Linked DNA regions of Homo sapiens. The protein of the gene in region 1 purifies or fractionates together with the protein of each later gene. This does not show direct contact. Each region holds a gene or a part of one and is shown on either strand. Other genes may lie near its edges.

Evidence for each region. Proteins that work in one complex are often made in the same cells at the same time.
Region 2: the proteins of TSPAN2 (region 1) and SNX13 purify together in Homo sapiens (co-immunoprecipitation; 3 studies listed by BioGRID and IntAct, with this or other methods). This does not show direct contact.

The regions. Positions count from the first base shown.
Region 1 is NC_000001.11:115,079,488-115,086,515, forward strand, and holds part of TSPAN2 (tetraspanin-2), read right to left. Parts: intron 1-7,028. UniProt on the Homo sapiens protein: May play a role in signalling in oligodendrocytes in the early stages of their terminal differentiation into myelin-forming glia and may also function in stabilizing the mature sheath.
Region 2 is NC_000007.14:17,888,470-17,895,497, reverse strand, and holds part of SNX13 (sorting nexin-13), read left to right. Parts: intron 1-2,063; coding exon 2,064-2,166; intron 2,167-3,862; coding exon 3,863-3,952; intron 3,953-5,013; coding exon 5,014-5,135; intron 5,136-6,709; exon of another isoform or gene 6,710-6,938; intron 6,939-7,028. UniProt on the Homo sapiens protein: May be involved in several stages of intracellular trafficking. May play a role in endosome homeostasis. Acts as a GAP for Galphas.

The sequences.
Region 1 (7,028 bases):
TGATCTGAATTTTCTCAAAGAGGAAAACCAGCTCCCAAGATTTTTATTCTGTTATGCAGTAAAAGCAAGTCAAGGATTCAGATGGCATTTCTTCAAAATCAAGGGTTTTATCAGAAAAAATACAAGAATTGAATGCCATATGACATCTATGTCAAATGGTCTCCGAAGGACCTCACTACCTTGGCCTTCATCAGGACCAGGTGAGTGGGAACTGAGAGGCAGGACTGTGGCAGCCTGTGGCGATGAGAAGGCTGTGTTAGTCTGGAAATGCATGGCAGCTCCTTTAGGTACCAGTGTTTCTGATCTCCCCATTATTTTCCTCATGCCATTTCCTAAGAAAAAGCTCACAGTAAGAAAAACTTCCTTCAGGTAAGAGTATATTTTATAATTGACCAATGCTTAATTCTCTGCAGTGATGGAAGGGTGGTGCAATTCAGGCCACAATAAAATCAGGAGTGTTCCATTCATCTCTGCAAAGAACACTGGGCTATACATTTGTGCCAGATGCACCTTCAGTTTGTTTAAATTGTTATAAAGTTAACTTGCATGGGTCAACCAACATTGCTGGGGGCAGTTTAGAAGTGCTGGAGAAATATAAGCTCAGGGGAAGGAAACTAACTTGGGATGAAAAGCTTGCTGCAAATGATAGAGCAGATAATTTACATATAGACAGTGGAAAATGTGTTGTTTATTTGGTGATTATACATAATGTCTTTTCTCTTAACAATACAGGGAGAAGGAGAAGGAGATTAGGGAACATCAAGAATTAGGAGAAAGACGATGGCTGTGTAGTTTTCTTGCTTTTTATTTTTTTGAGATAGGGTCTTACTCTGTTGCCCAGGCTGGAGTGCAGTGGCCTGATCACAGCTCACTGCAGTCTTGACCTCCCAGGCTCAATCCATCCTCCCACCTCCTCCTCCCACTACAAGCATGTGCAACCACATCCAGCTATTTTTTTCTATTTTTTGGTAGAGATGGGGCCTTACTTTGTTGTCCAGACTGGTCTTGAACTCCCGGGCACAAGTGATCCTCTTGCCTCAGCCTCCCAAAGTGCTGGGATTACAGGTGTGAGCCACCATGCCCAGCCTATGTAGTCTTCTTTATACTATACAGCAAAATGAAATGTCATAGACTACTGGCTAAGGATTCCAGGGAGCAGATGGCTTTCTCAAATGAAGATCAAATATGTACAGAACTAAAATCTGGTCTACCAAGTCACAGAAGTGAACTGAACTCAATGTCTGCCTTACTTACCTCATCAAGGGGATAAGCCCGGAGAGGAAAAAAATGGTCTTTTCTAGGTTCAGCGGACCTCCTCCTTGGAACATCCAGCTGGCTCTCATCCTAGGCCTGCCCTCTGCATATATAATCACTTATCTTGGAGGCCACAATGACTACTGTGACATCTCATCTATATAGAGCTTTACATAAGCAAAGACAACACATTAAACAATATTTATTTATAGTGGTTGGGAGAACTACTTTGGAGCAGATAAACAATTCTTAATTATTGATCAATAAATAATGATCTTCATCCAGTTTTAGTTGTTACAGAATGACAGTGGTTAAAAAAATGTTTCAAATGGAACTAAGGCTAGATTAGAAAAGCCAAAACAATTTGTTTACTAAGAAGTTAGCATGGGTGGAATCTAGCAGAAATTGTGAAAGTCTAGCTTGGTGCTCTATAGAGATTTTTCTTAAAAGCCATTTTACCAGGACCTGTTTGAGGTCAGGAAGGTGCAGCACTGGTCCATTCACAGAAGGCTAGATAGACTCTGGCGGGAGCAGGGAGACAAAGTCGGCTTCCTGGATGAGTGACAGCAACTTCCAATGCACCCCTGGCCCTGCTCAGCCTTGCTCTGCCACCCCTGTTAATAAGCTGACTCTTTCCCAATCACCATTACGATGTGGAGGACAGAGCTTGGTACACATCCTGGAATATCTGCCAACTGTTCTTCTAGAAATTCACCTCTTCTGGGTGTTCAGAATATATAATGATGCCCTTAGGGTAATAAACACATGCGTGCATACGGTACGTAGGTGTAAAGGAGTTGTAGTGGATAAAAATGGGGGTTCTACGCATTTGGGTTTGAATCAGACTCTGGCACTTACTGGTCCTATAATCTTGGGCAAGCCACTTAACCTCTCTAACCCCAGCTTCCTCATCTGCAAAGTGAAGGTAATAATAGTGCCTCCTAAAGAGACTAAATGAGTTCATGTTACACACTGAGAACAGTAAGTGCCTCACACTTTGTGCTATTATGTTGGTAGACTTGCTAATGTTACCTTCAAACCAAAAGCTTAATCTTCAAGATAGGAAACATCGCTCCCATGGTTCCAATAATGTGGTTTGCTGCAGCCGTCCTCTACTAATTTTTATTTTAGATCCACACTCCCTCTTTCCATGACAGCTGGAATTCCTTTCGGTTTTCTAAATCTTCTATACTAGAAAGTCAGTAGCCTTTTGTGGAAACTATGTCTCCTCTCTTTAATGTTTTTAAGACCCCATAAGAGAAAAATATGAATAGATATATTTATGAGTGAAAGAATAACTATATTTAGGCTAGGGCTGTCAAGAAGACCTTTCTCCAATGATGTAAATGTCCTATATCTCTGCTGTCCAGCGTTGTGGCCACTAGGCACCTATGGCTATGGAGCTCTGAAATGTAGCTAGTGGGACTGAGAAAATGAAGGTTACATTTTATTTAGTTTTAATTAATTTAAATAGCTACATGTGATCAGTAGCATAGTCGCCGCATTGGACAGTGCAGGTCTAGAATTCACAAGTTTGTCAGAGCTTCAACCTTCCTCTCCGATAGTCTGTAGACTTGGAGTGGTTATGAGTACAGACTCTGGGGACACACATAGAGACACAGCTCTGCCACTGGCCAGCTCTCAAGTCTCTTCAATGCTTCAGACCTCTGTTTTCTCATATGTAAACTGGGGATGATAACTGCTACTATTTCATAGGGTTGTTGTGAGGATTAAATTAGTTAATAAATGCTTAGGAAAGCAGCTGGCACATAGTGTACATTTATATAGTGCTTACTATTCTTCAAGTTTTTGCTCCTGAAATTAACTTTTTAAACTGTCTCTTGATATATACCCTTTCTCAATTTCCATGTTACTTTTCCTCTGCCTGAAACTGATCAGCAGTGTTCCCAACCTCTCTCCTTCCTGCTTCTTCTCCCATATGCCTTAGTATTTTTAGGCATCTCTTTGTACCTGTTTCTGGAATGCATCAAGACTAAATCTGACACTGAATATAATCTCCCTGATCACAGGCTTCAGATTTTCCAAGTTAGCAGCATTTCTTATACCTTATATTCTACACGTTCCAATAAATTAAAACAATGAAAAAAGCATGGGGTTTAAAGTCAGAAGACCTGGGACATACCACCTACTGTGCCTGACTTTCAGCTTTCACAACTGTAAAATGGGAATAATTACACTATTTCGTGAGATTGTTGTGATTCATGATCAGGTGGGATAACGCATATGAAAGCACTTCGTAAACTGAAGCATTGTTATTTTTGTTCCCAATCAAATTCAAAGAGGATGAAAAAGGCAGGCCAAGGTAACCCGAGTTAATTCATCTGTAAGATGTGCTCCCAGCCCATCTGGTATTTCCATCTTGCTGGCAGCATTCTCTCTTTAATTCCTTAGCAACCATGACATGATTTGTTTCAGTGCTCAGTATAGCATCACTTGTTTTAAGGGAGCAGCTTCGCGATATTAACTGTCAAGGTTGGGGGATAGAGGTTACGTTCTCTTTTGTCACACATGGTTGGAGACCCAAAGACACTTCATGGCTGATGTTCTAGAACAACAAGGTGAAATGCAATGAACAATGGACAGGTGGCCTCCCGGTAATTCCAGAAAGCATCAAGTATTAGCGTAAAAAAGAGACTTAATAAAGGTAAAGTGGTAACTGAAATTAAAAGAACTGCCAAAAACAAGCCAAGTGAGTAAGCCAAGAAGCAGGGCACACCCTGCTTCAGTCAGAAACAAGTGCCACTGCTGAATCTCTGACCTCTTCAGGCCACATCTAAAACAGGGGTTCTCAAAGCATGTTCCCAGACCAGCAACACGAGCATCACCTGGGAGCTTGTTAGAAATGCAGACCCACTGAATCCGAATAAAGCTGAATAAGCTCCCTATGTGATCTGTACGCACGTTAAAGTTTGAGAGGCACTGATCACCAAAGGTTTTCCCATTGCTTTTCCTTGGCCTCCACTTAGTAGCACAGAAGTGGGAAAGGAAATAAACAGATCCTGCTCCAGGGTCAGTGCACACAACTACCTTAGCTGGAGCCATGCTTAACTCTATTAGGTACTGAGGGATTGGGAGAAAGGGGATGCCAAAAGGACACAGTCCCTGCCCTCAAGGAGCAAAGACTAAACAGGGAATAAATTCTAATCAAAGGCAAAATGGAGGCTAAATAAAGGCATGAGTGCCTCAAGATCAAGGGCTGTGTCTTAATCATCTTTGAATTCCCAGCACTTGGCAGGGAACGGTGGAGGAAGTGATCTCTCCTTTTGACTCCATGCCCTTGATAAACTCCAAGCCTCTTGCTACCTTGCTTGCTTAGCTGGATGTAAAACACCTGCCTGCTTTGTTGTGACTTTATGAACCTCTTGGATTCTAGATTCTACTTTCCCATTTGTACTTCTAGTATTTAAAAACAACTATTACTGATATGTTATTATTTACTGTATGCATGAACCATACTTATAACCTTACATATATTAACTCATTTTATGTGCACAAAGTTCACAGATATTAGTAGTTTATTATGTCCATTATACAGATGAGAAAATGGAGGCTCAAAGAGGTTAAACAACTTGCCCAAAGTCCCCTAGGTAGTAAAGAGTGGAGGCAGGAATAGAGTCAGGCAGTATGATGTCAGTATCCACTGCCCAGGTTTTGGATTCCTGGATTTGAACTGCCACGCTGCATAGGTCTGTCCGAGGTCTACCGGAACCCTGGCACCATAGCTGTGGCTTCTTCAGACTGTCCCCTCTTGTAGGCTATCTGTTCCTCCTAGCAATTCTAGGTCCACACTAGGGGACACTGGCCCCTGGTACTCTCTTTCCACCTTGACAAAAATCAGAAATGAAGATTCTCCTCCAGCGAGGCTGAGAACATTCCTATCTGCCTTATGGGCTGGTCTCCAAAGAATACTTTCTTTAGGTATTTTTTCCTAAACCAATGTCTCTGACAGGTGATTGCTCTGAAGTTACTGTTTGAAATAAGTTTGGGAAAGAGTGGAAGGTGACCTCTATGAGATTCATGTGAGTCAAACTTCTTTGACTCCCAAGCCTGCAAGACACTGTCTTTCTTAAATGTACCTGTTAGGCATCCCCAAGTGAAAACCCAAAGCTGTATTAATAATGGTGAGAAGGAAAGGAGGGCAACTTCAGACTTGCCATATATGGAATCTGCTTTTCAACAATGAACAGCTCTGCTTCCTGTGGGTCAGTAACGCTGAGCAGCTAGTGCAGCACAATGATAGGAAAACACTGACCATACAACAATAAACCAAGGAATAAACAGCGCCCAGGTTTTCCTTTAAGCCAACATATGCGGCTTGGTGGGGGTGTAGTGTTTTATTTATATTGCTATGCAACGTAGGAAAAAAAAAGGTGATTTCAATGAAAGGCACAGGAATATGCTGTGCTATCTGATCGCAGGTCTGAATTTAGACATGACAGATGTTGGGAGGGGTTTCACATTTGACATCAACCACGATAAGAGAAATTAATGTAGTGGGGTTAATGGCTAGGCTTTATTTTGTTTTTAAAAATTCAGTGGTGAGTACAGTCAGCGGCCCTGGGCCAGGGAATACTGTGCTGGCTCTGGCAGGGCCTGGTTGTATGTTTATGAAACCAGGAGCACAGCCTAGGGAAACTTAAAGCAAGCTGCCAGAGGAGGCTGCAAATTGATCTGTTAAATCGCAGATCACCAAACAGAACCTGTCCCACCTCTATGCTTACTTCTGGCGAGGTTCTGATTGGAAGGAAGTGCTGTCACCCAAGGAACCCCGTAACTCCGAGGGGCAGGCACATGAGCTTCTAAGGGTGTGTGTAAATTTATACTTCAGTCACAGCTAAAGTCTGGCCTTCTAGGAAAACTATCCCCCACCCCTTTCCCAAACTTCCCACGAAGCCCTCCAACCACAAAAAAACAACTTTAGAAACTTGAGTGGGGCTTTTCTGGAATCAGGTTCCCTCAGTTACAGTGAAGGCAGATATCTAGATACTTTATCCCACACTTTCCCTTAAGTCATGAGGTGCCTGTTTCAGTTGCCTCTTCGCTCTAGTTGCTGCCTCCACCCCCACCCCCCATGAAACTGGGGGAGAGGAAGGTCCTTCATGTCCTACTGCATGCCTTCTATATGCTAGGCACTATTCTAGCACTGGGGATACAGCTATGAGCAAAACAGAAAAAACAAAATTCCTGCTCTCAGAGTGTTTTAAGTTCTAGTGGGGAAAATCCACAAGTACAAATTGACAAGATAAGGTGTAGTTATCCTCAAATGAAGACAAATGGCAAGTCACTTGGCAAACTTATATACTATTCCCCACCAAGAAAGGAATCAGGAGAAAGAGAGCTAACATTTATTGAATGCTTCCTATGTGCCGATAACAAAAATAATAATTAATATTTTTGAGCATTTACTATGTCCTAGGCTCATAGGAAGTTGAGGTCACATACTTTATATATTCCCTCTTAATCCTCTCAATATTTCTGTTACTCCAATAGCACAGATGAGAAAACAAGCCTAGAAGTAACAATAACTTGCTCAAGTACACCCTGTTTGTGCAGGCACGCCCTGCTTGGGATCTCTGCACTCCAGCCTGATGGCTTCGACAGTCAGATGGTGGCGCACACTCCCCCTTGCTCTGCTCCTCTGCTGGTGGATGGTGCGTCACCCCCTCGCTTTGCCCAGCTCCATTCTACCAGTCCTTCCAGGTTTAGCTCGAATAGCTCCTTCTTAAGGAGAACTTTTCTGGCTCCTCATCATG
Region 2 (7,028 bases), on another chromosome or scaffold:
AGTTTTTAACTTGCATAGTTTATTCTTGTCAAGTGTTGATAATGTCTATATTTTGCTTATAGTCAAAGTTAACTCCTTATTTTTTAATATAAAGAATGCTTTTGGAAAGAAAAACACTTGGGGATTTTTCGTTTTTGTTGTTGTAGGATACTTTCATCTTACTGCATTATGGTTATTTTGTGGCATTCTGTTGTATTTGTTGGGTTATATAATTAATTTATGGCACCCAACTACAGTTTAAATTATTACTTAAACTTTACAGCTGAAACTACTATTTAGGTTCTTTTAAAATCAGACTGCTCTTTATCTTGTCTTCCTATCGTTACACACTTGTGGGCAAAAATTAATGTCTTATCAGTCTGTTTCTTGATGATGTTTTTAATAACACAGTGTTAATATAAACATTTTATTTTGTCTATAAATATGCTTAATAACCAGGTAAAACTGAAATAGAGGGCCAACTTGAATCTTAATAATAATATCAGATATAACACAGATAGATGACATTTAGCAGTAATTCTGAGACCAGCCTTTTACAAATAACAAAAACAGAATTAATGACTTAAACTGATTTGACTTTATCCATGTTCTCAACCCCCAACCCCTGCTTTTGTGATACTTGTACTGAGGACTAGTGAGAGGGCAGGTAGACACAAAAATTGGAGGACTTTGAGAATCTTCCTTTCAGTAGTTGAGACTGACAATATTTAATGTTTTACTGTTCCCTTCCTGTCATTACAGTCTTTGAATCATTGTAACATTACTATAAGATCATTATTAGATTAAATGTTTTTTGATGGATTTCCAACACTTTGCTTTATTGGTAAATTTAAAATCTATGAAATATTGATAATATTTAGTCAATACTTAGAGTGAAGTAGTTCTAAATCACCATTTATCTTCCTTGATCCTGTAATTATTTTTCAAAATAATTAACTTTTTTTGGGATACATTTATATTTTCTTAATTCCAGCCTTATTTTAAACAAATCATAGATTAGATTTTTTTTTCCCTAAATAGCCTTTATGTATTCTGTATTCATACTGGAAAGTTATAATAATGTAATACCTCACGTGAATTGGTTAACAGAACTATAGAATTCTGTCATTTAGCTACATATTTAGATTCATTTGTCTTTATCCATGGTTATTAGCTAGCCTACTTGTTTAATAAGGGCTGATTTTTCTTTTCTTTTTTTTTTTGAGGCGAGTCTTACTCTGTCGCTAGAGTGCAGTGGCGCGATCTCGGCTCACTGCATCCTCTGCCTCCCCGGTTCAAGCAATTTTCCTACCTCAGCCTCCTGAGTAGCTGGGATTACAGGTGCATGTCACCACACCCAGCTAATTTTTGTGTTTTTAGTAGAGACGGGGTTTCACCATGTTGGTCAGGGTGGTCTCGATCTCCTGACCTCAGATGAGCCACCTGCCTCGGCCTCCCAAGGTGCTGGGATTACAGGTGTGAGCCACTGTGCTCAGCCTGATTTTTTTTTAAGTTTGAAAAATGTCACTTAAGTTTTTTTTTTTTTTTCGAGACAGTCTTGATCTGTCACCCAGGCTCAAGTGCAGTGGCGTGATCTCAGTTCACTGCAATCTCTGCCTCCCAGGTTCCAGCGATTCTCCTGCCTCAGCCTCCCAAGTAGCTGGGACTACAGGTGCAAGCCACCACCCTGGCTAATTTTTGTATTTTTAGTAGAGACGGGGTTTCACCATGTTGGTCAAGCTGGTCTCGAACTCCTGACCTTGTGATCCTCCTGTCTTGGCCTCCCAAAGTGCTGGGATTACAGGCATGAGCCACCACACCTGGCCTTGTCACAAGATTCTTTAGGAAATATATTGGATTAAAACTTTAAAAAGTATTATTGTATAATTCACAAAATGTTCATAGTTGTTTTAAACTTCAGAACCTAATACAATCTGTCAATTTCTTGCTTTGCCAAAGTCACAAATTGACTTTTTAGTAAATGATAAGCCATCTGTGAACTCTGGAAAATATACTTGGTAGTAGATTCATTAAATTATAAGGAAATTTTGTTTTTATATTTGTGATTAAATTTTTCTTTCTAGGGGTTTAGTGGTTACTCTCCTGTTTGGAAAAACAAACTCAGAGAAGTACCTAGAACAGTGTGAACACTCATTTCTTCCTCCAACATCACCTGGGGTTCCTAAGGTAAATCGTTTGAGGGAATATAAAACCTCAAAGTCCAGTTCTTTGCAATGATAATAGAGTAATCATCTGTATATATAGCGTGACAAATTTTCGTATAGTTTACTAATGCTCACTGGGAATTTATGTGAGATTGTCTAATTATACTTAGAAAATATATTTTAAAAGGCCATCTTAAAAACTTTCTTAGTGTTAGATTTAAAAAGTGGGAATACAAACTTGAGAAAACGATAGAAATTGGTTAGTTTATTTTGGGTATTTTTCCTGCTGTCTTATCATAGTATTTCAAAGCATCATGCATATGATTTTTAACAATGTCAATGAGTATTCTGGTTTGAATGAAATAAATTGCAGAGGAATCAGAGGAAAAAATGGATACTTTTCATTACTTTGAAAAATACAGCTTGTAATTAGATTATGCAGTATCTATAATTTTAATAATTCAGGCCTAATTTTTATCATCTTGAATGGTGCTATTATTTTTTCAGTATCATACTCTATAAATAAAATTGGAATTGTGTAAGTTTCAGATTGTAGTGCCTTCAATTCTTGTGCAGTTGGGTTGGTTTCATTTTGTATGAAGAGAGGCAGATGGCCTGGAGTTGATGCTAATAACAACTTTCTTTACAGTTATTAATTTATCTGTTACATGCTAAGGTGCAGGAGATGTAGAAGTAAATAATGTCCAATATTATTTTACATTAATAAAAGAATTTCACTCTATTCCACTGACTTTTATATTGATAAACAAATTTTTTAATACTTAAACTTTTTTATAATCTGAAACCTTTCTCTCCTTTAGGACTCATATTAATATGTATTTTTTTTTTTTTACTTATAAGTCTTAGGAAATTAACCTTTCCTTTTTTGAACCATTTCTTAGCTATTTATAGTGTACTTCATTTGAGTGGCATATACAGAGAATAGGAAATATTTTAAGAATTAAGATCCTTAACAGTAATAAATTATATTCAAGAATGGTTAAGTCTTTATAATCCATTTTTAATAGATAGTATAAAACAATGGGTTTTATTTGCTATTTCTAAAATATGATTTCTAAGTATGTCTTATGAAAAAATATCCGTGGTTTCATATTATAACTTTGAAGCATGTATTTTTAATATAGATATCTATGTCTATATCTGTATCTATGTTTATATATATTTATGGTTTGTTTTTTTAAGAATCTCCCACTACCTTTTCCCCAATTTTCAGGCCACTGATCTTTCTGAACACAAAAAAGTAGAGAAGTACATTTTCTTAAGTTGCCAAAACTATCCCTACATAAAATCCGTTTAAAAATTAATTATTTTGCAGCTGGTATACTGTTTTGGGCTGGGAAAGGGGAGGGGCAAGAGGGAGAGTGTCCAGTAAAGACAGTTTGACTCACATGAAACACTAATTTTATAGTTGTAGAGTTTCATTGAAATATGGCAGCAGCATACCTGTACATTTGCAGTTTTCCCACATTCTAAATAATTTTTGCTGATTAAATTTTTGAGGATAATCATTTTTTTGGGAGTGTCTAATTTTGTTAACTTGAGAAATAGTGTTTGGCTTATAGAGTAGCACCTCAAATAAGGTTATTTATTTACTTGAGGATAATGAAGGGATGTTACATTGAGTATTCAACTGGAATTAAACTGGAGAGATTTTACATCAGAAAACTACTCAGTAAGATATTTTGATTTCCTTTAAGTGCTTAGAAGAAATGAAACGGGAAGCCAGGACTATTAAGATTGATAGAAGATTGACGGGTGCCAATATAATTGATGAACCTCTCCAGCAAGTGAGTTTCAGCGTGTGGTATTTGAATTCTATATATTGTGTTCTAGGTATATTTCTTTTGAAGATACCAGGAAATACTTTTTGCTCTTTAAATAATATCCTGGAATTTCTTAATGTTATCCTTGAATTTTATACTTGAAGATGCTTCCTTATTTATTAACTCACTTCTAATGAGGTGGTTTACTTTATGTAAAAGCCTTTCGATTGAATTTGGATTTAGAAAAAAAGTTGTTATTGACATTTGATAGTGTTTCTTAAAATTTTACAGTTAAAGTGTTACTCTTTCGTTGATGAACAAGCTTAGTGGTGTGGTAAATCAGACTTTTTTTCCTACTTGTTACCTTTTAAAAAATGGAAAAGAAATATCCGATGCAAAAACATTAAAAAATTAGAGATAGGTAAAAAAACTATGCCCCCTGAAATATTTTTCATTGATGTTTGATTATATGATTATAAAAATGTGTACTTTAGAATTTTAACATTTATTATTATTACTAATATTTAGTTTATCTGATTTGTAAAAATTATACATTGAGTTGTATTATGTACTATTTATTGTCTGAATACTGTTGGCAGTATCAAAGGTATTAGTAGAAATAAGTGAACTCCTGTATCATTTTTATAATTAGACTGCAATGGATCTGATGATATAATCTTTAAAAAAACTTTTTTTGTGGAATTATAGTCTCTATTATTTTACATCTCATTCCATTAAACTGATTGATATTATTTATTAGATTATAGCATGGAAAGTTTCTTTTTTTTCTGCAAACCCTGTCTTTACCTGGATTTATGTGGGACTTGGCCATAGATAGTGTTTTATTTTATTTTTTTTTTTAAATCTAGGCAGTAGGTAAGTTGGGATACCAGAATAATTTAAAAATGTTTGAAATGGTTTTTAGTATGTTGATGTTTTTGTAATGAGGGCAGGTATTTACCACCATAAATTAATACGTAGAGAGTAAATATAAATTGGTAGATACAGCATACTTTTTTAGTTTACCACTGTAACTTTTTAAATCCTAAAATGTTGTAATTTTTTTTCCAATATTTTTGTTATAGGTTATCCAGTTTTCCTTGAGGGATTATGTCCAGTATTGGTATTATACACTAAGCGATGATGAATCTTTTCTTCTTGAAATTAGGCAGACTCTTCAAAACGCACTCATTCAGTTTGCTACTAGGTAAGGACACGACATTGTATTTATGCAGAAAAATTTAGATGTATGGTTTGTACCAGTAAGGAAAACAACTTTTAAGGGGAGGAATTGTTTATTAAAAGGTAAGTAGAACAGCAGATTATTACTGTGGGATAACTCCAAGATTTTACAACTAGAGCTCTTAAAACCTTTAAATTACCCCAGATTTTAGGTTTTTACAGAATGTTATTTTGATTAAGCCCTGCTTTCTAAGTCTGTTTGGTAGTTTTTTCTTTAGGGTCCAAATCAGGTGACTTTTCAAATCTGTTACCCCACTTATTGCTACTTCCCCCCTCCCCCTTCCCTAGACCCTCTGTTTTATGTGAGTGCTATGAAAATAGATTAGTTTCAGTGTAACTGCTCTTCTCCACATAGTTTTGCTGTAACCCTTCTCCTAATTATGACACATATCTATTGGAAGTCCTCTTGGACGAGAAGGGACCAAAGGAACATAAGTCAGTGGAAAATATTCAAGTTTATATTTTTCAGAAAAGAAGTATATTTTGGTGAGTTTGTTTTAACAAACTTTTTTTGTCAGATATACTAAAATTCTTACTTTACAAACCAGCTATATACTGCTTCCCATATGATGAAAGTGTTTTGACTTCTATTCTTGTACTTAAACTGCTTGATTTTTTTTGATGGGAGGCTATTTCACACCTGTTTAAATTATGTTTACTTTCATTTTTATTTTTGAAGGCTTTTTTTCCCCTCCATCCTTGATGTCTAACTTTTTGAAAGCCTTTTAATGGGCAACGTTATGTGAAAGGGAATACTTGTGTTCTAGAAATTATTTATTTTTGAAAGAAAGATTTTATGTTTGGATGAGTTTGTAGATTTTTTTTTTTTATTCCATTAAAATATGTTGCTACCATCACACGCAAAGATTGCCCTGCTAGGTATTTCCAGCCATGCTGCCCTCTCAGGCCCTTTCCTCTATCTCCATTGATTATAAAGCTTTAGATTTGGAGTTGGCTAGAGGAAGGGCATTGGATGTGTTTCCCAACCTCATTGGGGAGCCTGGCACAAGTTTTATGATTTGAACAATAATTGTTACAGAGATAGATTTGTACTCCTCATCCCTCGTGATTAGGAGCAAGAATTTACAAAGTAGCCAGCCAGAATTACAGATGCAGACTCACTGTGGAACACAGAACATATAATTGGTATAATCAAAGAAAGTCAGAATTTGAATTTAATCTCTTTTATTTCATATGCACCATTATTGAGTGTTAGGTATTCTTTCAGATAACTCTTCTAAATATTTTTTATTGCTTTCTATAGCAACACTATCCTGATGACTTTTTTTTTCTTTGAAAGGGTGAGAATAGGAAGAATTCATTATTCTTGTGCCTGACTATTGAAAAATATATAAAAATGTGTAACACATTTTAGACCTGGGAAGAGATTTGAACTAGTAATCTGAAAACTTGAGTTTGCATTCTAGCTCCACCTCTAGCTATGGGACTGTGAGCAAGTGTCTTTAAACTCTGAACCTTGGTTTTTCTCATATGTAAAATAAGTGTAATAATAACTGCCCTGTTCTGTGTTCCTCTCAGGATAATTGTCAGGATCAAAATTCATCTTATTCAACTAATATTTTGGGCATACTTTGTACCAACCAGATGCTGGGGATACAGCAGTGAATAAAACAAAGTCCCTGCTCAGTGGAGTGAAATGAAATACCTGTGACAGTGTTTTGAAAATTGTGAAGGAATTTAGAAATTTAAGTTTTTATGCCATCCAACACCCATAATTTTACTGATGAGGAAGCTAAGGTCCAGAAAGGTAAAGTGGTTAGTCTAATGTTATCTAGTGAGTTAGAATCAAATTGTTCTTAAGTTTGGTATTTTTTCTCCTACCCAATTAAATATTTTA